Homo sapiens: one gene and its partners. The protein of the gene in region 3 purifies or fractionates together with the protein of the main gene of each other region. This does not show direct contact. Each region holds a gene or a part of one and is shown on either strand. Other genes may lie near its edges.

Evidence for each region.
Region 1: the proteins of TNFRSF10D (region 3) and TKT purify together in Homo sapiens (co-immunoprecipitation; one large-scale study listed by IntAct). This does not show direct contact.
Region 2: the proteins of TNFRSF10D (region 3) and WDR1 purify together in Homo sapiens (co-immunoprecipitation; one large-scale study listed by IntAct). This does not show direct contact.
Region 4: the proteins of TNFRSF10D (region 3) and SEPHS1 purify together in Homo sapiens (co-immunoprecipitation; one large-scale study listed by IntAct). This does not show direct contact.
Region 5: the proteins of TNFRSF10D (region 3) and PLS3 purify together in Homo sapiens (co-immunoprecipitation; one large-scale study listed by IntAct). This does not show direct contact.
Region 6: the proteins of TNFRSF10D (region 3) and MYH10 purify together in Homo sapiens (affinity purification with mass spectrometry; one large-scale study listed by BioGRID and IntAct). This does not show direct contact.
Region 7: the proteins of TNFRSF10D (region 3) and LRPPRC purify together in Homo sapiens (affinity purification with mass spectrometry; one large-scale study listed by BioGRID and IntAct). This does not show direct contact.

Annotation. Positions count from the first base shown.
Region 1 is NC_000003.12:53,235,523-53,239,022, forward strand, and holds part of TKT (transketolase), read right to left. Parts: intron 2,299-3,500; coding exon of another isoform or gene 2,275-2,298; intron 1-2,274. UniProt on the Homo sapiens protein: Catalyzes the transfer of a two-carbon ketol group from a ketose donor to an aldose acceptor, via a covalent intermediate with the cofactor thiamine pyrophosphate.
Region 2 is NC_000004.12:10,082,300-10,085,799, reverse strand, and holds part of WDR1 (WD repeat-containing protein 1), read left to right. Parts: intron 1-1,269; coding exon 1,270-1,357; intron 1,358-2,621; coding exon 2,622-2,778; intron 2,779-3,500.
Region 3 is NC_000008.11:23,150,528-23,154,027, forward strand, and holds part of TNFRSF10D (tumor necrosis factor receptor superfamily member 10D precursor), read right to left. Parts: intron 1-3,500. UniProt on the Homo sapiens protein: Receptor for the cytotoxic ligand TRAIL. Contains a truncated death domain and hence is not capable of inducing apoptosis but protects against TRAIL-mediated apoptosis. Reports are contradictory with regards to its ability to induce the NF-kappa-B pathway.
Region 4 is NC_000010.11:13,327,794-13,331,293, forward strand, and holds part of SEPHS1 (selenide, water dikinase 1), read right to left. Parts: intron 1,996-3,500; coding exon 1,905-1,995; intron 658-1,904; coding exon 558-657; intron 1-557. UniProt on the Homo sapiens protein: Synthesizes selenophosphate from selenide and ATP.
Region 5 is NC_000023.11:115,564,174-115,567,673, reverse strand, and holds part of PLS3 (plastin-3), read right to left. Parts: intron 1-3,500. UniProt on the Homo sapiens protein: Actin-bundling protein.
Region 6 is NC_000017.11:8,473,726-8,477,225, forward strand, and holds the end of MYH10 (myosin-10), read right to left. Parts: intron 3,324-3,500; coding exon 3,151-3,323; intron 2,224-3,150; coding exon 2,079-2,223; 3' UTR 499-2,078; downstream 1-498. UniProt on the Homo sapiens protein: Cellular myosin that appears to play a role in cytokinesis, cell shape, and specialized functions such as secretion and capping. Involved with LARP6 in the stabilization of type I collagen mRNAs for CO1A1 and CO1A2.
Region 7 is NC_000002.12:43,989,490-43,992,989, forward strand, and holds part of LRPPRC (leucine-rich PPR motif-containing protein, mitochondrial precursor), read right to left. Parts: intron 1-3,500. UniProt on the Homo sapiens protein: May play a role in RNA metabolism in both nuclei and mitochondria. In the nucleus binds to HNRPA1-associated poly(A) mRNAs and is part of nmRNP complexes at late stages of mRNA maturation which are possibly associated with nuclear mRNA export.

The DNA of each region.
Region 1 (3,500 bases), on a different chromosome or scaffold from region 3:
TTGAGCCACCTGCTGCAGGGGACAGACCCCGCTGTGAACCAGAGGTTGGAGGAGGCCTTGGGACTGGCTGGGTGGGCCAGTGGGAAAGGGGAACCTTGGGAACCAAGCTCTGCTTCTGCCCGGAGGAGGGAGGTGGGCCAAGGAGGCCTGAGGCACTCTAGGCAACACCCTGGAGCAAGAGGGCTCTGGGGAGGATAGAGCAGAGGGCACTTGAGGACCAGGCGCTTCCTGGGACAGGCTCTCCCCAAGCTTCCAAGACTAGCTCTTGACCCCAAGACTGAAGCTGCACCTGGCTCTTTCTCTACCACAGGGGCCCTCTCCTCCCCTCAACACAGGCAACTGTGATCTTTTCAAGACAGTGAGACGTTAAAAAGAACACTGAACTTGGGATAAATTACCCAGCAAACAGAACGTTCCCGGCCTGGGAGATGTGAGGGGATGGGGGTAGCAGAGGGACGGCAGCAACAGACAGGACTTGTCTGAAGGTCGCGCTGTCAGGAAGTTGCTGAGCCAGGATTCAAACGCAGGTCTGACTGTAGCCTAGACTGTCCGCTCCTTGCCGTGCAGGCATGCAAGTAGGGTGAGGAGTGGTAGGACTTGGGGACCTCCCCTTACCCTGCCCAGTGTCTAGCTGTGTAGCCCTAGGAAATGAGGCTGGTGCCTGGTTGGGCTCAGAGGGGACATGGCTGCCCTCCTGCTCCTGCAGGAAAAGGCCCTCAACCCGGCTGCATGCTCAGCAGTCCAAGCCTCCAGGCCTCCCTGCCGCAGGGCCAAGGCAGGGGCAGCAGGAAGAGGCTGGGACAGCTAGCCACGGAGCTGTCAGCATGACTCAGCACTTCCACATGCCAGCAGGCCAGGAGCACTCCCTGCAGCCTCTCCTGCCTCATACTGCTCTTCTGTGGCCTCCACCACAGGAGGTGGTGCCCCTGTGGGGTACCATGGCCAGAAGGACAAAGCCTCAGGCCCACACTTCAGAGGCCCTATCCTGTCCCAGCCTTGCCTCCTCTTTCCCCTGTAGGTTTTGAGGGGGCCCAGAGACCCTGCAGGGACTCTGGTCTGGCACAGCAGCTCCAGAAAGGGGCCACATGATGGGGCTGAGCCAGAGAAGCCAACTCGACTTCCCAGAAAGGGATTCCAGGGAAGGCAACTGGCTGCCACCCCAAGCCCACACCCACTTCCAGGGAAGTCGAACCGAGGCTAGCACTGGAGGCCCAGCACAGCTTTGGCTTCGAGACTAGGGACAAGGCTAAGCCCTACAGGGCCATCAGGCTCAGGTCAGAGGGCGTGCTGAGGTCCCGAGGAGATGCCAAGGAAGGGGTTGTGAACAGGGAAGGGGCCTACAGGAGCCTGGGCTAACCCTGAGGCTTGGTATTGCCTGAGCTGTTAGAGTTAGGGGTGGGGGGCTGCAAACATCCATTCATGAACTAATTTGAAGAGAGGGAACCCTAAACAGAAGGTCGACATTTGTTGTAGAACGATTTGGAAACTACCTTACGTGTCCAACAACAAAGGACTGGCTAGATGGATTATAGCATCTCCATAAAACAGAATATTATGTGATCATTAAAACCAGCTCTCAGGATGTGTGCAGTGGCTCACGCCTGTAATCCCAGCACTCTGGGAGGCTGAAGTAGGGAGATGACCTGAGGTCAGGAGTTTGAGACTGACCATCCTGGCCAACGTCATGAAACCCCGTCTCTACTAAATATATAAAAATTAGCTGAGTGTGGTGGTGCGCGTCTGTAATCCCAGCTACTCGGGAAGCTGAGGCAGGAGAATTACTTGAACCCAGGAGGCGGAGGTTGCAGTGAGCTAAGATGGCACCACTGCACTCCAGCCTGGGTGACAGAGCAAGACTCCATCTCAAAAAAACAAAACAAAACAAAAAAAACCAGCTCTCCACTGTTAATATCAGGAGAAAAAGCTCATGATAGAAGGCTTGGTTTAAAGTGTAATACTAGATTTTATATTATACACACACACACACACACACACACACACACACACACACACTGGGATTACAGATTTGTAAGCTTTTCTCATGATAACATGGACAAAATACATCATTAGATTTAAATTGGGGGTGGGAGGCAGTGTGCTAAGAATAAGGAAAACATTGGTTGGGTGCAGTGGCTCATGCCTGTAATCCCAGCACTTTGGGAGGCCGAGGTGGGCAGATCACAAGGTCAGGAGATTGAGACCATCCTGGCTAACATGGTGAAAGCCCGTCTCTACTAAAAATACAAAAAATTAGCCAGGCGTGGTGGCACGTACCTGTAGTCCCAGCTACTCGGGAGGCTGAGGCAGGAGGAGAATCACTTGAACCCGGGAGGCGGAGGTTGCAGTGGGCCGAGATCGTACCACTGCACTCCAGCCTGGGTGACAGAGCGAGACTCCATCTCAGAAAAAATAAAAATAAAAAAATAAGGAAAACGTTCATTTCTTAATATCATTCTGTACTTTTTAAACAGGAGGGCAGGGAGAAACAGTGAGTGGAGACCAGTTTGCTCTATCAAGACGCTACCTCCGGGTGCCTGGCCTGACATGATAATCCCTGGATGCCCTGGCCCCTTCCCCCAGGTACAGTCAGGGGCCTAGGCTCCAGGCAACCCTGGCCCCAAGCCACCCTGGCTTCTGGGAACCCAGCTAAACTCCTTCTCCCTACACTGACTTGTTCCATTATGTTAGGGTCAGGAAATGCCCCTTCACAGGGAATTATTTCCAGCAACTGTAGGGAATAATTAACTCACATCTCTGGTTCTCTGCCAAATAAAATGCTCTTAAACATGCATCTCATTCTTTGTGTGTCTCTCTCTCTTTACTTCATGGTGAATCACTTCTGGGTGTAGCCAAGCCTGCCCCAAGGCTCACCAAGGAATGAAAGCAAACTGTGGTCAGGTGACACTGGCCTGAAGGGGTCTGGAAGGGACTGTGAGGCCTCCTTGGAGAGCCAGTCCTGGGGAAGGGCCTGCACACAGAAGGTGCTCCCTGCAGCCTCCTGTCCTTCAAGGACCCACAGTCTTCCCGAACCCCACTATGGCACTTCTGCTGCAGGAGTGGAGGACAGGGCAGTGGAGATGCCATCAGCTGCAGAACTGGGCCCTTCTCACACCCTGCGGGCTGGCCCCACTGGCCTTCCTCCTCTAGGAGGCTTCCCGCCCACAGGACTCCCCGAGCTCCTGTGGTGCCCTCAGCCTCTCCAAGAGCAGCCTGGGTACCTCCACCACCAACTGGATGGCCTAGGCCAGCATCTTGCCTCAGCTTCCTCACCTGTAAGACGGGTCACGGTTCTCACACCACTACCCAACTCACAGGGGGCTTTTAAAGGTGGAACCCAATACAGCACATGAGCACTGAGCACAGGGCCTAGCCCCCAAAGGGCAAAGGAACCCTTCTGATGAGTGACTGACATGGTTAGGCTCTGGGTCCCCACCCAAATCTTACCTTGTAGCTCCCGTAATTCCTACTGGTTGTGGGAGGGGCCCAGCAGGAGATAACTG
Region 2 (3,500 bases), on a different chromosome or scaffold from region 3:
GGTATCAGCCCAGGCTGCGTGTTAGAACCACCTGGGAGCTCTAAAAAGCGCTGGCTGCTGACGCCCCCAGAGGCACTAAGTTTACAGGGAAGTCTCAGGGCAGCAGGAGCTTGCAGGCCTCCAGAAGGAACACCCGTGGGCATCTGGGCATGGCTAGGAGTGTTTCTGGTAAGTTCAAGGCATTGAGCCTGCACACAAGTCTCTTGGCCTCTTGCCGAGTGCACGTTCTGATTTGGCAGGAAGGTGGGCCTGAGCCCTGCTGGTGGGGGCTGTGCTGGTCTGAGGTCCGCGCTGTAAGGGACTGGTGGGATGCCACATTGGAAGGAGGCCGCCCAGCTCAGTGTCTCTTACTGGGGCATGTGATGATTTTTCCCCACGTCTCTGTGGAAAAGATGAAAGTAGCTGCATTCGTTGCCCATTCTCCAGTCCCACTGGTAACTGTGTACCTGTCTCCAAGGAGACCTGCATCCAAAGATCTATGCCATATTGTGGCAACATGTGGCATACCACAGAGATCAAGAATTCCTGCGGAAAAGCCCTGAGCTCAGAGGAGAGGGGCCAGCCAGGAGCTGGCCTCCCTTTGCAGGAGAAAGGCATGAGGAGCCTGCACCCTAGCTGTTATTTTTGTCTCAGGCTCAGATATGGAGGGGGCTAAACGCCGCCCTCTGGAAGCAGCTGTCTGGTTGTGGACCAGCCTTGTGTGCCCTCCACTGCAGCAGTCAGGGAGGTTAGGGTAGGAGCGTCAGCGTTCACGGACAGCCTTGGGCTTTTACAGTGATCAGAGAGACCCCTGCCCTCAGCAGGGCCAGCACTCCTGGGCAGGGAGAGAGAAGAAACCTCACAAACCAGGGCCTGAAGCGAATGTGGCCAGCGAAGTCCTCCTGGACCGACCCCCTTGTGGCTCCCCGCGACGGGTGCTGGTCGGCGGGGTGCAGGCCACGTGTCTGCACACGTTAGGTGCTCAGGTGCTGACGTGCTGGGCCTTGGTTAGACGCAGGTCTGGGCCCAGGTCTGGGTTAGGTACCTTGGAGGGAGGGGAATGAAGGGCAGGGTCTGTAGGTGACTGGGTAGCTTTGGAAAGGTTTCTTAGGGCTCGTGGGCCGTGCATTCGGGCAGCTGGGGCTACTGGGGCCTCAGAGCACCTGCACTGCCATGGATTGAGGGGCGTCTGCCCCCTCCATTACCCAGAAGCTTCGTTGGTGGAAAGCGGGTGGCAGAGGGCAGGGCAGTGTGTCATCAGCTTACCCGCCCAGTGTGTCTCCTTCACAGGGTCACAGTAAATCGATCCAGTGTCTGACGGTGCATAAAAACGGCGGCAAGTCCTACATTTACTCTGGGAGCCACGACGGACACATTAATATCCTTTGACTCAAAGAGCTGGCTCCGGAGCCGCTGGCTCTAGGGGGGAATTTCCTGTTCCCATGATGCCAGAGGCCAGGCCAGCCAGGTGGCTCCAGCTGCAGCCACAGCCACACGCTCTTCTGACCCGTGTGGCTTCTAGGGGTGGCCTGTCTGTACATGGGGACAGGCAACTGTCCCCTGGAGTTGTCCTTGGCAACTCCAGGGCTTATGCTGAGGAAAAGCCATGGGCGGCTCCGACCTGATCAGTCCCTTCTTGTCGTGCAACCCTGAGAGTGTGGCTTAACGGCCCTGAGCTTGGGCTGCCACTACCTCTGCCAATGGCACCTGGCGCCAGCCTTGGCCCTACTCCACATGGTGGGTTTCTTGATTCCTAGAATTCACAAGCACCTGGACACCCTTACGTTGGGTCCCCTTGTTTTAAAAATAGGAAAACCAGAGCCCAGAGAGCTGATGTGCCCGCCCCAGAGTCATGCAGCCTGTGGTCCACAGAGCCAGGGCTGGAGCTCCTGCGAGGTGCCTTGTGGCCCTTCGGTGATGTTCCCTGGAGGTGTTTGTGTCCCCCTTATAAGTCCTTGTCTGGGTTTCTTTAAATGAGTCCTGGTTTCTCCCTGATGATGGGGGCTTCTGTTGTGTTTTTCCTGCATGGCCTGGGGCTGGTGACACCCTGCTCACGGGTGTGTCTTGAACCTTGGAGCCACCATCTGCAGAGTGCCTGGGCAGGGATGCCCACACACGTTGCTGATGATGGCACCTGCTGTGCGTTGTTCTGCTGCCCTCCCTGAGCACCGTGCTGTGTTGGAGACTGCCTTTTGTGTGGACAGCTCTGGTCCGCATGTGCTGTACCTCCCAAAGGGACTGTCCGGGACCCAAGGAGGTCCCCCCAGGCTGGGAGAGGAGGGCAGACATGCCACCCTCTGCCCCCAAAACATAAAGAAATGTGGGGTTAGAGGGTTGCGCCTACCCGATAACTAGTAGCAGAGGAGACGCCGGAGCCTCCCCAGCTTGCTGGTCCCCAGTAGGCCTTCAGCACGGCTCCCTTTCTGCCTCATCCCAATCCCTGTGTGGTGCACCCACACTTCAGATACCCCTTCCTAAGAACGTGTCAACAGTGGACACTGCAGGCTTCCCAGGGGGAATGGTTATGTCCGTTTGCGGCGAGATTCTCATTCTTGATGTAAATGGAGAATCTTAGGACTGAAGCCACACCTGAGAACACCCAGCAGTCCTGGGAGCCGGGCTTTTCCTTAACCCCACCCTACATTACTGGGATTCAGAGACGGGGGAGAACGACTCCTTCGCTGGGAAAGGCCACACGAACCAGGTGTCCAGGATGACCGTGGATGAGTCGGGGCAGCTCATCAGCTGCAGCATGGACGACACCGTGCGGTACACCAGCCTCATGCTGCGGGACTACAGGTGAGAGCACTCGGGTCTGCGGGGGTTCCGGATGAGCCTCAGCTCCCCTCGGAGGGCTTGTGCCCTCCAGCAGTTACTGTTCTGGAGGACGCCTCACTTGCTCCTTTCATCTCTCCCACCCCGTCCCCAGCATTGTTCTCCTGTTGTTGGGCCCTGAGCCCAGCACTGTGTTACAGATCCAGGTGGTCTGGGTAATGCTCTTGCCCACAGACAACGACCAGGTGTGGACTCTGCCCTGGAAGCAGGGGCAGCAGATCACAGCCCTGTTCTCCAGGAACCTGCTGCGGTCTCTCCCTGTGTCCCTTTCCTCATCAGTAAAGGCGGGTACAGTGGAGCCTGCCTCAGGCTGTTGTGGATTAGGTGAGCCTGGCACAGGGCAGGTGCTGAGTACAAGACAGCATTCCCCTTCTGCTCAAGGGTGAGATGGGCACACAGTGATCTGGTTAAAAGACAATGTCTTGTTTGTTTTTGGTCTTGGGCCTTTGATTGGCAGTCAGTGGAGCTAGGAGAGTAGCAGTTTGCAAGTGATCTGAAGTCCTAAATGCAGTTGGAGGGACTTGAAAGAGAAATGTTCCAGGACCTGACGAGGCCACTGCACATCCAGTGTCCCCATGCCCAGGTCTGACCCCTCCTCTGGCCCTACATTTCTTGTGTAGACCCCTTTGTCACCCGGTAGTCCTGCCTAAGTCGTGTTGCCTGGGAGATGGGGACTCCTGGGGCCT
Region 3 (3,500 bases):
CAAAATGAAGCACAAGTAACCAACCCGAAAGGAATAGACATTTACAACAGCCTGACAAAGACTTGAAAACAGTCATCTTACAGAAGCTCAGTCAGCTACTAGAGAATATGGATAGACAACTAAGTCATGTCAGGAAAACAATACATGAACAAAATGAGTAGTTTAATATACACAGACAACATAATAAAGAAGAAAGCAGAAATTCTAAAATTAACAACAACACAATATCTGAACTAAGAAAATTCCACAGAGAATGTCAACAGCAGAGTTGATTAATCGGAAGAAAGAATCAGTGAGCTTGAAAACAGATCATTTGAAATTACCAAGTCACAGGAAGAAAAAAAAAATAAAGAATGAAAAAGAGGGAAGAAAGCCAACAGTACCAACGGTTACTGTGAAGCAAAACAATATATGCATTATGGTGGTCCAAGGAGCATCAGAGAAAGTGAAAGGAACAGAAAGTGTAATTAAAGAAATAATTAAAGAAAATGTCCCAAAACAGGATGGGAATGGACATCCACATTCATGAAGCCCAAAAAACCCCTAACAGATAAATATGAAGAGATCTTCACCAAGACACATCTTAAACAAATTCCCAAACATCAAAGGCAAAGAGAATTTTGAAACCAGCAAGAGACAAGCAATGTACAAAGGAACCCCTATAAAACTACCAAAGGCTTCTCAGCAGAAAACCTACAGGCCAGGAGAGAGTGGAATCATACAAAGTACAGAAAGGAAAAATTCCTTGCCAACCAAGAATACTACACCTGGCAAGCCTGTCCTTTAGAAATGCAGAGCAGTAAAGACTTTATCAGACAAAGAAAAAAAAAAACGGGGGGAGTTCATCTTTAGCATGTATTGCCTTACAAGAAATGTTAAAGAGAGTTATTCAATCTGAAAGAACAGAACACTAACTGGATACACAAAACCATGCGAAAATATAAAACTAGGTGGTTAAATACATGGTCAAGTTCAGAATATTCTAATACAATCATAATAGTGTACAAATTACTTACATCATTACTATAAAAGTTAAAAGCCCAATGTATTTTTTTAAATGATACTTAATACAATTTGTTAAGGAATACACAACATAAAAAGACGTAAATAATGACAAAACATAAAATAAGGCAGGAGAAGAAAAGGTGTCAAGTTTTTTATGAGATCAAAGATAAATTGTTATCAGTGTAAAATAAAGTTAGACATGAACCTAACTTACAAATTCAGTAGTGTTTTTATACACTGACAAGAAACTATCTGAAAAATCCCATTTATAATAGCTACAAAAAAAATGCTTAGGAATAAATTTAACCAAGGTGGTGGCTGTATTTTTTTCTAATTTGGTCTTGAGGTTTCTCTCTGTAGAGTGGCTATAAATTCTAGCCTTGCCCTGGGGGGGATCCAGGAGATTTCATCATGGATGTTCACAGGAAACTTATTTGTCCCGGTGGACTGTCTAATGCCTAATTGGGTGTTCATCTTGTACATGTCCCTTCCACAAGACAATTACTTTTACTAGCAGTAGACCTGGTGGCTCTTGTCTGACCTATGTCCAGTTTTAAGTTATCTCTACTCTTTAGGAGACAGCCACTCTTTAAGAGAGCCAAGATGGAGAAGGATGTTAGGTTCAGATGTGTCAATTAGGGAAAACACAGAGGAAGCAACACAACAAAACACAGGAAACACAGAAGTGGTGTATTACTTACAGACTCCAGAGAGAAGAGGATAGCACACTTTGCAGCACTTACGGGAAGTGGGGAGCTATCCAGTCCGAGGACACTAACCGGTGTGTGGGGAGCAAGAGACAGAGAGAGAGGACCCGTGGGACTACACCTTTATAAAGATCCATGGGCATTATACCCCAGGCTTTCCCACAGGGATTGTGGAAGACAACACCTGCAAAGAAGGTTCACACTGCTCTGCTGTGAACCATTAGGTTTTATTGTAGTCAGCTCCTGTGGGATGTGTTGGGTTTGGGGTCAGGGAGATGATGAACAAATGTGCTAGATCAAAAACAATTGAACAGGGAAAGGAATTATTAATTGGGCAAAAGATGCTGTGGTATGATTGGGTTTTAAACAACTTACATTGGGCCTAAAAATGGATGTCAAGGCAGCAACTCTTTTAAATAAATTTGTGACAGAGGTGGAAGATGTGAAAACTGTAAAATATTGATGAAAGAAACGGAAAGTAACAAAAATAAATGGAAAGACAGTACATGTTCATGGATTAGAAAACTCAATATTGCTTAATTGTTCATATGACCCAAAGTGATCTACAGATTCAATGCAATGCCTATTAAAATTCCAATGACATTTTTTACCAAAATAGACAAAATAAATCTAAAATGTGTATGGAACCACAAAAGACCTCAAATAGCCAAAGTGATCTTAAGCAAAACAAACAAAAAGAACAATGATGGAGGCATCATACTACCTGATTCTTAAATATATTACAAAGGTATAGTAATCAAAACTGAATAGTAATGGCATAAACGAAGATAAACTGATGGAATGAAATAGTGAACCCAGATATAAATCAATGCATTTACAGTCAACTGATTGTGACAGATACCAAGAACACAAAATGGGGAAAGGACAGCCTCTTCAATAAATGATGTAGAGGAAAGTAGATATTGACCTGCAGAAGAATGAAATAAGACCCTTATCTCACATCATATGTAAAAATCAACTCAACATGGACTAAAGATTAAACATAAGCCCTGAAATTGTAAAACTACTACAAGAAAACATAGGGGAAAATCTTCATGACGTTGGTGTGGGCATTGATTTCTTGGCTATGACCCCAAAAGCACAGGCAACAAAAGCAAAAATAGACAGATGAGATTATATCAGACTAGAAAGGTTTTGCACAACAAAGGAAACAATGAACAGAGTGACGAGACAACATACAGGATGAGAGATCAATATCCAAAAGATCCAAGATTTTGGTTAACATCCAAAATACACAGGAACTCAAACATCTCAATAGTATGCAATCAAATAATCCAATTAAAACGGACGCATGGGCAAGGGACCTGAAGAGACACTTCTAAAAAGAAGACATAGAAGTGGCCGACAGGTATATGAAAAAAATGCTCAACATCACTAATCAGGGAAATGCAAATCAAAACCACAATGAAATACCACTTCACACCTGTAAAAATGGCTATTACCAAAAAGACAAAAGATAACAAGTGTTGATGATGATGGGGAGAAAAAGGAACACTGGTACACTGTTGGTGGGAATGGAGATTAGTACATCCATTATGGAAAACAGTATGGAGGTTCCTCAAAAAACAAAACATAGAATAACTATATGATCCAGCAATCCCAGTATTGTGTATACATCCAAAGGAAATGACATCAGTATGTTAAAGAGGTATCTTCCCTCCCATGTGCATTGGAGCATTATTTACAATGGTCAAGACATTAATCAACCTAAGTGTCCATCGATGATGAAAAGGTAAAGAAAATGTAGTACATAGACACAATGGAATA
Region 4 (3,500 bases), on a different chromosome or scaffold from region 3:
GGAATCTACTACAGCTACATATAACAAGGAGACTCTCAGGAACAATGGTGAACAAAACAAGTAAAAAAAATGCAAAACTAATTTGCTGCTTAAGAACACAAGGGCTGTGCAATAAAAATATTCTAAAATGCAAGAAAATAAACACAAAATTCAGTGGTTACACCTAAGCAGGAATGCAGGGGATGGGTGGGAGTGGGGGCACTTCTAGACTTCCAAGGTTATGTTCTGGAAATAGCTCCAGTATCTTAAACTTTCTAAATTTCCATTCTGAATGGTTTGCTTCCAAATCTTACATAGGTAACCCACACAAACGCTTTCTAGAAATAGTTCCTCTGGTATGTCAGAAGTTAGGACTTCCTTCTTAATTATAAAGCACTGTAAGTCAGGGACCATCTGCAGTGATCTATGGAATGCCAACCTGGTACCAGGAGAAGACGGTCTGTAGTCACTGGCCAAAAATCTGGCCACCTACCCTGAGACAGTATGTGGCCAGAAAAGCCTAAGACATTTACTGTCTTGGACCCCTGGGACCGAAGCGCCCTTCCCACCTGTCATACCTGTCCTGTTGAGCCTCGCCATGTTCATCATCGCCTCCTGGTAGGCCAGCTCTACATCTTCTTGGGTGACCACTAGTTTAATCTTATTCCATTTCTCAGGCTGATAATAGAAATGTAGGTGAGGGAGAGAAAGAGAGGAAAATGTGATTAATCTTTACTTCTAGCAACTGAGAAAAACAGCAACTTTTTCTTATTTAACTTCTAGGGACTTTAATTCAGAAAACTGAATTTTCCAACTCTGGTTTTTCTGTGGATAGTATTTTAGGTGTCCATTAGACCTGTCAGCATGGCGTCTTTTCTGTTCTCATCCCACATTTCTGTAATTAAGTGCTGTGATTTATTGGGTATGTGTAGTCTAGCGGGACACACGGCGGCACTGCTGTACATGCAGTGTAGTGTCCTGCTAGTGGAGAAGGGCTCCCCCATCCGTGACACTCCCTGCCTCACCTGCTTCCAGCTCCCTGCTAGCTCAGGCCTGGGAGGTGGGGCTGGAAGGCACCTCTGCGCAACATCCCCGCAGTGGCCTTCTGCTCTGCTCCCCATCACAGGGGGAGGAGGGAAAAACTGCTAAAGAACGTGGCAGCCTTAGAGAATTTCTCTACCCTGCGACATCAAGCTAAGATATACCAGGTTGATGAAAGACGTGTAATTATTGATTATTCTCTTTCAACTGTTTCTCAGGACTGGTAGTTTCAGATGATAGTTGTAGAAATTAAATGCACCATGATATGTGAGAATATACCCCAATCTTATTAATTTGTGAGTTGTTACGGCAATGAAGAAAACCAATCTTAAAGTATGATTATAGCTCACTGGAAAAATGACTCACAAGACATATCCTCATTATAGATAGATTCATTCTGCACAAGAGAATTATTTATCAAAATGTTCTGAGTTACTCATCAGTTTAAAAAGACAAAACTACCAAACAAAAACAACCAAAAACTGCATAAAACAATTTAAACTGTCAATAACCCTGGTTTTATTTATACCCCAAACACTACGCCTTCCACCAATTCTCCTTCATATTATTTCTTAGTGATGTTTAAGACATGAAAGACGAAGCTATCTCAGGGCCAAGTAAACAAAGCTAACCCCCTGCCGAGCAAATTCTTTACAGAAAAATCTTAAAGCTCCAAGCTGGGGCTTACCTACTGCAATCAAGCATTCAATATGCAAAACTGTTATTTAAAGACTATGAACAATTCCTAGGATTTCTTTAAGGACTTGACTAATATTAACTCCCTGGATATGAAACTAAAAAACCTCATTTCCCAAATCCTCCAACAAAAATTACCTGCAAACGTACCATTCCCCTCCCTCCCATCACAGCAGTGGTTTACTCACGATATCCAGCCACTGGTGCACAGCCACTGCCACCTGTGTCCCCAGGGGTTTTGTCAGCACCAGCACGTCCCCTGGCACTGCATTGTCTGGCCTGAAGAAAAGAAAAGGGCATGTTCTAGTCAAACTAACCAAGGAGATGAGCTCATTGTTATTAACACAAGAGAAGGAATAATCTGTCAAAAATATATCTGCCTTTGCATTTACTTAAATTGAAGCCAACTACCAGCATGTATGGGACAGAGCCTTGCAACCTGCTACTGAGGCTATTGCTGGAACAAAACATTCAGCCATCAGGCTGGACACAGTGGCTCATTTCTGTAACCCCAGCACTTTGAGAGGTCAAGAGGGGAGGATCACTTGAGCCCAGGAGTTCAGGACCAGCCTGGGCAACACAACAAGGACCCCATTTCAAAAATAATATACATATTTTTAAAAAGAATGAAACATTTAGCCTTCAAACGTTTCATCAGGCCCAGATTTCCCCTCGACCACATACGAGTGTATGTGTAATTTTCACTACAGACCCACTAGCATTCAAAAGCTTCTGAAACAGAGAGTGCTTCTTTATGATCACTGATATGCTAGAGACTCAGGACGGATTTTTCGGCCCAGGGGTTTGGTGGATTTGCAGGCAATCTGTGGGTCTAATGTCTTGGTGATTTCTGCCTCCAGGTTCTCAAACTCAGACTGACTGATGGTGAGTTTCCTACCTGGCACCCAGACGCCTTGGTGGTCCCTGTCTTAGAGACAGAAGGCAATACTAAAAAGGCACCTCTAAAAGATGACAACTGGTGCCCGAATGAAACATCTACCAGACTTGCATTCACACTACCAGGAAGCAGGTCTGAGAGTTGTGCCTTTCGCAGCTTCAGCAGCTGAGCTCCTGAATCGTTCCATTCCCCGATGCTGGCCTCCTCAGGTACTCACCCAAGTCGATGAAAACAAAGCCAGGGCCACAGACTTCAATACCAACACCCAGCTCCCCAGCTCAACCTATACCATTTGTATCCACTCTCAGCTTTGAAAAATAGAATTCTGTGACTACGCAAGAAACTTGTTTTCCAAAAACCAGACCTGAAGACATAAATGTCTTCGAATTCAGACTCAGTTGTACCATAAAGTTGATGTTCTTTTTTTTTAAATTTTTTAAAATTATACTTTAAGTTCTAGGGTACATGTACACAACATGCAGGTTTGATACATAGGTATACATGTGCCATGTTGGTTTGCTGTACCCATCAACCCGTCCTTTACATTAGGTATATCTCCTAATGCTATCCCTCCCCCAGCCCCCTACCCCCGACAGGCCCTGGTGTGTGATGTTACCCGCCCTGTGTCCAAGTGTTCTCATTGTTCAACTCCCACCTATGAGTGAGAACATGCGGCGTTTGGTTTTCTGTCCTTTTGATAGTTTGCTTAGAATGATGGTTTCCAGCTTCATCCATCTCCCTGCAAAGTACATGAACTCATCCTTTTTTACGGCTGCGTAGTATTCCACGGTGTGTATGTGCCACATTTTCTTAATCCAGTCTATCATTGATGGACATTTGAGTTGGTTCCAAGTCTTAGCTATTGTGAATAGTGCTGCAATAAACA
Region 5 (3,500 bases), on a different chromosome or scaffold from region 3:
TTGAAGGTGTTTATTTTTCAACTTAACTTCCCACATTTTCTGTTTTTTTTTGTTTGTTTGTTTGTTTTTCTGTTTTTCTTTTGAGATGGGGTCTCACTCGGTAGCCCAGGCTTGGAGTGCAATGGCGCAATCTCGGCTCACTGTAACCTCCGCCTCCCAGGCTCAAGCAATCCTCCCACCTCAGCCTCTTGGGTAGCTGGGACTACAAGCCCGTGCCACCGTGCTTGGCTAAGTTTTTGTATTTTAGTAGAGACGGGGTTTCACCATGTTGGCTAGGCTGGTCTCCTGGCCTGAAGTGATCCACCCACCTCGGCCTCCCAAAGTGTTGGGATGACAGATGTGAGCCACCGTGCCAGGCCATTTTTTGTGTTATTCATGGCATGCTACTTAAATGTATAGATTATCTCTTCCACTATGCAGTTTCCCAGACCTGCGTGTTGTCCTCCTTTAGACTGCAATTATGAGGAGGAAAAACTTGATTTTTTATGAGGTTTTTTACACGAAACCTCCCATTATGGGCAATCACAAAACTAAAAATGAGGTATGGTAAGCCAATGGACTCTGTAACAATTACCACTGAAGACCAAAATTCTACTCAGTAGTTAGTTAAAAAGGGGAAAAACACCACCCAATTAATGGCTTTAACGGGCTACCTTGCACAATATTTGAGGTAAGAAATAGAAGAAAGTATCACATGGGCTGGGCGCGGTGGCTCATGCCTGTAATCCCAGCACTCTGGGAGGCCAAGGCGGGCGGATCACAAGGTCAGGAATTCTAGACCAGCCTGACCAACATGGTGAAACCCCATTTCTACTAAAAATACAAAAATTAGCCAGGCGTGGTGGTACGCGCCTGTAATCCCAGCTACTCAGGAGGCTGAGGCACGAGAATCACTTGAACCCGGAGGCAGAGGTTGCAGTGGGCTGAGATCACGCCATTGCATTCCAGCCTGGGCGACAGAGCGAGACTCCATCTCAAAACAAAACAAAACAAAACGGGCCGGGCGCGGTGGCTCACGCCTGTAATCCCAGCACTTTGGGAGGCCGAGGCGGGCGGATCACGAGGTCAGGAGATCGAGACCACGGTGAAACCCCGTCTCTACTAAAAATACAAAAAAACTAGCTGGGCACAGTGGCGGGCGCCTGTAGTCCCAGCTACTCGGGAGGCTGAGGCAGGAGAATGGCCTGAACCCGGGAGGAGGAGCTTGCAGTGAGCCGAGATCACGGCCGCTGCACCACTCCAGCCTGGGCGACAAAGCAAGACTCCGTCTTTAAAACAAAACAAAACAGAACAAAACAAAAGAAGAAGAAGAAAGTATCACATGTAGGTTTTTATTCTATTGTTATCAACCTAGTCTCTTATTTTTCATTATAATATGTCTGGCTTTATTTTTCCTTTGCTTGTAAAAATTGGATGGGTGCAGAACTTTTACAGACAAAGAAAAATGTGGCAAGACTTACGTGATGAGAACCCTGCCATTTCTGTAAACTCTTGTTAAAGCTTTAGTGTTTCTATGATACACTGCTGCAGTACTTTGAATTTATATAGCACCTGTCTGCTTAAAAGCCAAGGCTTCACGTTTCTCACTTATCCTTTTACCATGCCTGTGAAATATGTAGATTGGAATCACATGGCTTAAAAATAAAGTGAAACCCAGATATGACCACAGAAAATTTCAATGAGTTACTTAAGATCATCTATCTGTCCAGACTGCAAAGGACTAAAAGACCCTAAATTCTATGCTCAATGCTTTTCCAATAAACAACACTACCTCCTTATTATCAAATACGTTTCTAAACTTTTAAGAAAATGTAAGGTTTCTCATATTATAAAATCAGTAGGCTTAATGCACCAAAAATCCCTGTCAAGGAATTAAATAAATGGCACCTCTTTATTTTAAAGAACTAACATTAGTCATGGAATAACCCACTGGTGATCACTTTCCTGAATAGTCATCAATTTGCCAACAAAGTATTTAGCTTGGATCAATGCAATTGCATCAAAGTTTGAAAAGTCAACTGATAAGTGAAATAAGCCAGATTATGAATATTTGAAAAAATAAAACCCAGCAAACCAAAAAGCTTGAGCAATCCTCTCTTTTTATAAACAAAAGCATGAATGGTGTCTGGCACATGTATGTACTCAATTAGTTATTAATATAATAATTTTAAATGACTTTCCGAAGGTCAAATTATGAGTCAATGGCAGAGCACTATCTAGAATCTAATTCCTCTGAGGGCAAGTTCAATGATTTACTTAAGATAATCTATCTGTCCAGACTGCAAAGGACTAAAAGACCCATGCTAAAATAATTAGTATTTTCATTTTTGTATACTAACAATACTTCTTCATCCCTAAAACAGTTTATACTCACTAATATTTATCTTCCAAGTGTCAAGACTAAGGCAAAATTTGGTATTATTAAATTTATCGTGAATCTTCTGAAATTGTCTCACCTCCGTAACTAAAATAAATTGGCCCAAGTATGATCAGATCTTCTAAGACTGACATTTCACGATTAGACTGTTTCCATAACTTTAACCAAAGCGCTCTCATAACTAAAATCAGCTAGTCATGACCACTGGTATATAAAAATCTTCCAACATTGTAATGTATCCAAAAAGCTTTGAAACCTCCAACACACTGAATATACATTATATGGTATATCACTGTCTAAAATAATACAGACTCAAAACATGACCCAGCTGACTTCTTCTAAATGAGTTGTATTATTTTCACAGATCAAAAATTTTGCCTTCTGGATCACTCTTCACCAAAAGAAAAATTGCCATATGACCAAAGACAACATGATTCTAAAAACAGATACCCCATTGTTGTCATGTATTGAGAGATATTCATTTTCAAATTTTATTTTATACCAGCTACTTTCATAATCTGTACCAAACATCAAAAAAGAAACAGTTCAGCTTATACATTCCACATAGATTATGCTAGATCAAACACAACAGCAAACTCATGAATTTATCATATGTGCTAAGAACACTGTCAGTACATTTCATGAAAATCCAAGTAGAAATAATGCCTAAAACAGAATATGGGATAATGGCAAATGGACTTTCTTCTTGTACCCTCTCAGTGTCACCAAAAAGAACCACTTTGGTGCTCAAGCACCATGGCCAAGCTGCCCTTTTATTTTCAGTAACAGAATTCTGTTCTCCTGGGAGAAAAATCTCATTGGGTTTCTGATAGTGCCCTAGATACTGACATTCTGCCAGTATAAACAGTCACAGTCAAAGTCTAATGTGCGTGTAACCACTTGTGGAAGAGGCTTAATCTCACCCAAATTATTACTCACTAGTTATAATTAATCCTTCTACCCAAAATGCCATAAGCCTAGTCATTTTTATCAATTGAATCTAAATGGTTACATCAGACTAGAGACTTTGGACTTCAATGTTGATCGTCTGTATTAAGTCAAGGCAAAGTGTTATTTATTTATTAATAGCTCCCCACCTCAGGTAAAGGGGTTGCTATCTGCT
Region 6 (3,500 bases), on a different chromosome or scaffold from region 3:
GGAACAAGAAATCGGCATTCTCTGTTTGATTCTGTGCTGCCCTAGTATTTCTCTCATCCTAGTTGGCCCGCACTAGAGAGGCTGCCCTTGGCCTCATCACTGAATCCTCCAAAAGCATCTTCAATGCGTGTCTGCCTGAAAATGCAGCCTGAAATGTCCTGGACCCCTGAAAATGTCCTAACCCAGCAGTGAGCTTCATTGGCTGGTGACCAGAGCCCTCCTAAATCACTCCCTTGACAGGTGGGCCAGCTCCTGCCTTTGGGTGGTCTTTCCCTTCCTAGTGCGTGTGCATCCTGTGAGGCACTGGCAGGAACAAGAGTTGGAGCCAGGACTGGCCTGAGAATTATTCTGTCGTCTGACCTGGGAGACAGCGCCCTCAGCAAAAAGGGCCTGGCGCCATCATTTGAAGTTGGTGTGTAGCACCCACCCTCCAGTCAGATCACAGATGGGAAATCGAGAACAGAAGGTGAGAAAACAGATTCCACGTTCACATGATTATTCTTGTTTATTGAGGTCTCTTTATTCTCCACGGGTGCTTTTTTCTTCAAGTAAACAGAGCAGGCGCAAATATCTATAATGAATAAATTTATTGTCTTACAAAAATCATTGTCTAGAAATATGGGAATACAAGAAAAGATATTTGCGGTCAGGTGTCTGGTGGTCAACAGCCAGTACAGTTCATAAAGGGGGAAAATCCAAGATTCCAAACCCACAGGACAAATTCTTCCTAATAGATGTTAAAGCTTTTAACCCAAAAGGTTTGTGTTTTCAAGCACATTGCAGAGGATCAAGGATTTAGAATTAACACTGATTCATTGTCACTGAATGTCTGTAATACCACTTTGACTAGAGAGGTACATGATATGAAGCACAGTCAAAACTGAATACATTAAATTGTTATAGAGGCGAATGATATATTCAACATTGTCTTAGTACTGTAGTGTCTAAGGCACTTTCCGTAATGTCAGTTTGCTTAACTACCAACCAAAAACAGGATGCTAAGTGTTCACTGTAACACTGTCCAAAGGGAAGGGAGAAGGAAAAATGAAGGAGTCACACCCACTGGCATGTCAACATTCAGGAAGATGGCATCTGTTCTGGAGGCTCCATAAACCTCATTGACAAACTTGGAACAAGCCTCGGACACAAAACCAATATTCCCATTTTGGGCTCAAAGCAGCGGCTGAATTTGCAAGGTCAGCATGAGGGCCCGGCTGGCGATGGGGAGGGGCCTTCCACCAGCTCGGCTTAGGGGTCCACGGCTGCTTGCTCCTGACGTGAGGAGGGCGCCGGCAGAGCCAGGCGGTTCGGGAGACCATCTGGAAGTCTACATGATCCATGGCTGCCACCTGGGGCCTCAGCTGCAGTGTGGCCACTATCCCTTCTATGCACAGACCAGCCCTCGCCAAGGCCAGTTCACATGAGTAGATGCGGGACACCATCGACTCGAGGGGCAGGGCCCCCCTTGGGGGATGGACATGGTAACCCCAAATGGGTGTTGCTTCCGATCCAGCCCACCCCTCCTACTCTTTCCAAAGCCCCTTTCACAGTTTGCTCACTGAAATAGCATTGATCATTATTTGAAGGAAATGAGAGAGACAAGTGCAGTTTAGAGTCCACAGTGGTCTAGGAGACTTGATGTGGCTGAGGAGTCGGGGGCCACGTGAACACAGAACTAGGTTACCTGTCTGTATGACAGAGAGCATGCAGAGCGACTGAGTGACGACCACGGCGCTGCCCCAATAACCCAGCGACCCGCAACCAAGGGCCTGGAGTTTGTTTTAAAAAGGGTCTTACCATGTTTTATAAAATGGTCTCTTGATGACTATATGGAAAATAGATGCAATGATGAAACAATCTGTTTAATATATGTGTCCTGTGTGTGTCTATATATAAAAAGGGGAGCAATTGTACCTAAGTCTGAAGCAGGATACAGTATGCATAGGCTGGAGAGCCTTAAGACACAGTTGATCTTTCAGGAAGGAATCCCGTAGCTTGCCAATTTCCGAAATCTGCAGGAGGCCCCGGGTGCATTCCTAACTGTCCCACTGTATTGCCTCCTCTGGCTTCCTGCAACTTTACTCTGACTGGGGTGGCTGCGTCTCGTTGACATCACTGGTCTTACTTTCTGTGTCATCGTCGGAGAGCTCCAGGGAAGCTCCTTCAAGGTGCAGCTGGCGCCGGCCAGATCGGCTGGAAGAGAAGCTGATGGGGCCACCCCGCCTGGAGAACACAGGAAGCAGATGTGTGTGGGTAAACAGACAGGAGCACATGGCTGTCAATATGTTCAACCACTCAATGCCACGGAACCTTCCCCTTGCACCCCCTCCTCGGACACACGACCTTGTGGGGGTGGCGGTACGATGGGGAAGGACTGCGTGCTTTTCTGCCTCTCCCACAACCCTGCCTGCAGAGTACGCGAAGCAGGGTCCTTGGAGAACTGGGGAGGACTTGATTCAGCCTAGGACTGTGTGATGGAAATGGTAAGGAAGACGGATTAAGGCCAAGCTCTACCTGCTAACCAGGGAATCAGCCAGATAGCAAAGTGGGCCACATAGGGACTCTGTTGCATATTCTTTGTTTCGGCGTTTTTATAACCATTTAAAAATGTAGAAACCATGCTTAGTTTGATGGCTGTATAAAAGCAGGGTATGCACCAAATCTGCCCATTGGCCAGATGTGCTGAAACCTCCGCCGACCTGGTCTTCTGGGGCAGAGACTTCAGCTGTAGCTCTCTCACGCTCTGCCCTCTCACTGGTACAGAGCAGATCCATTGTGGTGAGGAGGACGGTGCTGAGGAGGGCTGATGGCACCAGGTCCCAGGAGGAGCTCCTGCCCTGCTTTTTAAGAGAGGCTGGGAGCTCACTTCACTAATGGATATCTGGACAGGGATGGATGCCTGACCCAGCTCCAGCCTGGTGTGGTGGATTAGTGTGGTCCTCTAGTGACTGGCAATGAATAGGGCCGCCTCCTCTTTTATTCTCCCCAAGGACGACTATAAAGGTCAGAAATCTTAAATGAAGTGGTTCGGGAGAAAGAATGGGTCACTGGGTATGGATCTAAGTAAACTTCCTCTGACCAGCTGCACCCCGAGCCTAAGCTAACCCACAAAGCAGCTGCCTGTCAGCTCGGGGCCGCATGCCTGCTCACCTCAGCCGGTTCTTCAGGGTGCTGACCTCGCGGCTCAGGCCCTCGTTGGCCTCGGTGGCATCATCCAGTTCCCGCTGGAGTTTACGCCGAGATGCGTTGGCACGCGTCGCTTCTTCTTCTGCTTCCTCCAGCTGGCGTTTAAGCTGCTTCATCCGAGCGTTGGCCTTCTCCATCTTGGGGAGGGTACATGAACCAAAACAAACCAAACTGGTGAATCCAGTGTCGGCCTCTCTGTACCCCGAGCGTGGCAGTGTGGGGCTCTGCCTGTTACCCTTGTGAGCACGCGTGTACACGGATGTACACGCGTGCCTGGGGGCTGGTCGGAGGCTCTGTAACCGGCCTGCCGCTCT
Region 7 (3,500 bases), on a different chromosome or scaffold from region 3:
CTTCAGAATCTATGAAGATCCCTTCCAGATACATTCTGAGATCTTCTATGTTTACTTACCTGTGAAAGTCTTTAAATCCCAAGTTTATATCATATATTGCCTTTTAAAAAATGTTTTTGTCCATAAGTAATCCCTTCACCATCTAAAACACAACAGTCTGGACCTCATTCTGCACCCAATGATAACTACCATGGCAGTTAACTGTAAACAGGAAAATGACAAGATCAAATGTGTAACATATGTAAAACACTTGTAACATATGTTGCAACATATGTAAAACATTTCAGAAACGGGAATCACGGTATCTGGAGTTGAATCTCAACTTGAGGTCTTGAATAAATTATACTTCTAACCCTGTTTCCTAATTTGTAATAACCCACGGAAGTTGAAATGTTTGTATGATGTTATGTTTACAAACACACTTTGAAAATAATAAACATCAGGCCAGGTGCGGTGGCTCATGCCTTTAATCCCAGCACTTTGGGAGGCTGAGGTGGTGGATCACCTGAGGTCAGGATTTCGAGACCAGCCTGGCCAACATGGCAATGGCAAAACCCCATCTCTACTAAAAATACAAAAATTAGCCAGGCATGGTGGCATGCGCCTGTCGTCCCAGCTACTTGGGAGGCTGAGGTGGGAGAATCGCTTGAACCTGGGAGGCAGAGGTTGCAGTGAGCCGAGATGGCCCCGTTACACTCCAGCCTGGGTGGCAGAGCGAGACTCCATCTCAAAAAAAAAAGAAAGTAATCAGCATCTATTCTAAAGGTACCATTGTTTACCCTAATCCCCAAATCTACTTTTCTTAATTCTGCTAACACTCTCACCAATCTTCTGTTCTCTTTCTCTCAAGAAACGGATCTTTTCGTCAGTTCTTTACTACCTCGTTGAAGGCCTATTACTGCTAATTTGCAATACCAGTGTTGTTCCATCCCCACGTTCCTATAATCTACATAAACTTTGTCAAAATCTGTACTTAAAATCCTCCAACGGCTTCCAATCATCAACTAACCTACCTTCTAAGCAATCTTGGTAGCCTCAAGAAATCAACTTCCACCACATCCCACACAGCTACACGGGATAAACGGCCTCCAAGTCTCTTCACGCTCTTCTCTATTTTTGGAACATTCTGAATATCCACTACCATGTGTCCTCTAAAACTCAATGTCCCCCTGCCATAAAACAAATGGCACTGCTCCTCTCTCTGAAATACCACAATATTATATTCTTCTCTTATGGACAGCACGTCTAATAGTTGTACATGTGCCTGTCTAGCCCTGTGATTGATAAATCTACACTCACAGAGCAGAGGCCGAATGTTACAGATTTCAGAACCCCAAAGGACCCATCAGGTTCTTTTTTTTTTTTTTTTTAATTGAGATGGAGTCTCGCTTCGTAGCCCAGGCTGGAGTGCAATGGCGTGATCTCGGCTCACTGCAACCTCCACCTCCCGGGTTCAAGCAATTCTCCTGCCTCAGCCTCCCAAGTAGCTGGGATTACAGGCATGGGCCACCACGCCTGGCTAACTTATGTATAGATACTTTTATTTTTTTTTTTTTTTGAGATGGGGTCTCACTCTGTCACTGAGGCTGGAGTGCAGTGGCCTGATCTCTGCTCACTACAAGCTCCGCCTCCCAGGTTCATGCCATTCTCCCACCTCAGCCTCCCGAGTAGCTGGGACTACAGGCGCCCGCCACCATTGCTAATTTTGTTTTTGTATTTTTAGTAAGAGACAGAATTTCACCATGTTGGCCAGGCTGGTCTCAAACTCCTGACCTCAAGTGATCTGCCCGCCTCGGCCTCCCAAAGTGCTGGGATTATGGGTGTGAACAATAGTACCCAGCCGGACCCATCAGATTCTTAATATTTGCAGAAGATTTTTCTAAAATGAGAGTTTTCTAAAAGTTTTCTTCCAACTTTAGAAATAAAAATCACACCATCCCATCAAAGAACAATATGTAATTTTCACCTTTAGGCCAATCATTAGTCTAGATCTACTTCCAAACAGATTGAGCTCAAAGCTTATCTTTCCTCTGAAGTATACAAGTATTATGCTAAAAACCATCACACAAAGAATACACACACAAAGCAGCTCTGATCCAGAAATGCAAGGAAAATGTATGTGACAAAGCAAGAGTATTTATCACCTCAAAGAGAACAGAGTAAAAGCTGGTTTTCCAGAAAGCATCTATTTGAAAAATAGATGTACTGAGATGGGAAAATGAAGAGCAAGACCACATATTACAAAGTAAAAGGATATACTTCTTGGTGCTACAATTTTGAAAACAGATTACTAATGTCTAATAATTTCACTCACTAATACTCATTTGTCCTCAAATAGGACATTCCTGGAAATCAAGCTCAGGGTGAATTTGTGTAGACACACTGCACTGCATGGGTGGGTTAAGCATCCCTTCAATCTCCTCCAGTTTACCATATTCCTTCTTCAATGTCTTAAGATTTTCATTGATTCACTCAACAAACATTTGACACCTACTATATGCCACAAAGTTAAACACCAGGGAAAGCAAAAGGAGTAAGACACAGTATCTGCCTTCAAGCAACTTACAGCCAGCTCCAGAGTGTTGGTGAGTGCACGTCATAGTGTTAATGGGTGCTTTAGTGATACACGGTCTAAGAGGAGGCACAAGAAAGGAGCCAGTCAAATGGGAGAGGCAGTCAAGTTAAGGTTCAACAGAGATGGGGGACACCTGACTAAGGGGGAAGGGGAGACACATTCCAAGAGTCAACATTACACTCAAAGGCAAGGAAATATACAACATGGCCCATCAAAGCCTTACAGATCCACAGACAAGCACTAGACCTACAAAATCAGAATCTGCAGTTTAACGAGAGCCCCAGGCAATCATGCTCACTAGAGTTTGAGAAGCCCTGCTGTAGAGCACTTCAAAGTAGTAGTCTGGTACGGCTAGAACGCAGGATGCCATGGGAGGGAACTCAGAAGAGTTGACGCTCCAGAGGCAACTCCAGCTCATAAAGCACCTGTGCTAAAGAGTCTGGATCTCCTTCTGGACCCAATGGGAGCCACCACAATGCTTAAGTGTAAGCAGGAAAATGACATGATCAAATTATCAGGGAGACTAGGGAATGATGAAGGGGCTGGAGGAAAAGGGATGCATTCCAAATGAAGCAGATCTAACAGGGCTTAATCATTTGTGCAATCAATAAATGGGGGGTGAAGGGAGTGAGAGATGAATGGGAAAACAAATATGTAGATATCCAGGATCTTTCTGGAAGGCAGGTAGAAACAGCAACATTCACGAAAATAGGGAACACAAGAGGAACAGATGAAAGAAGAAGGAGGGGTCCAATTTGAGCTGTGTTGGCTCTGAAGTACCTATAGTTCAAGCAGGTGGATGTGTAGTAGATGGTCCATATCTGGGAGAAACATCATCAGATAGGTAAGTAATGCCCTGAAAAATGGAAAAGGTCACAAAAGAGAATGAAAATGTTGAGAAAACACAGAAGGACCACGAGTAAAA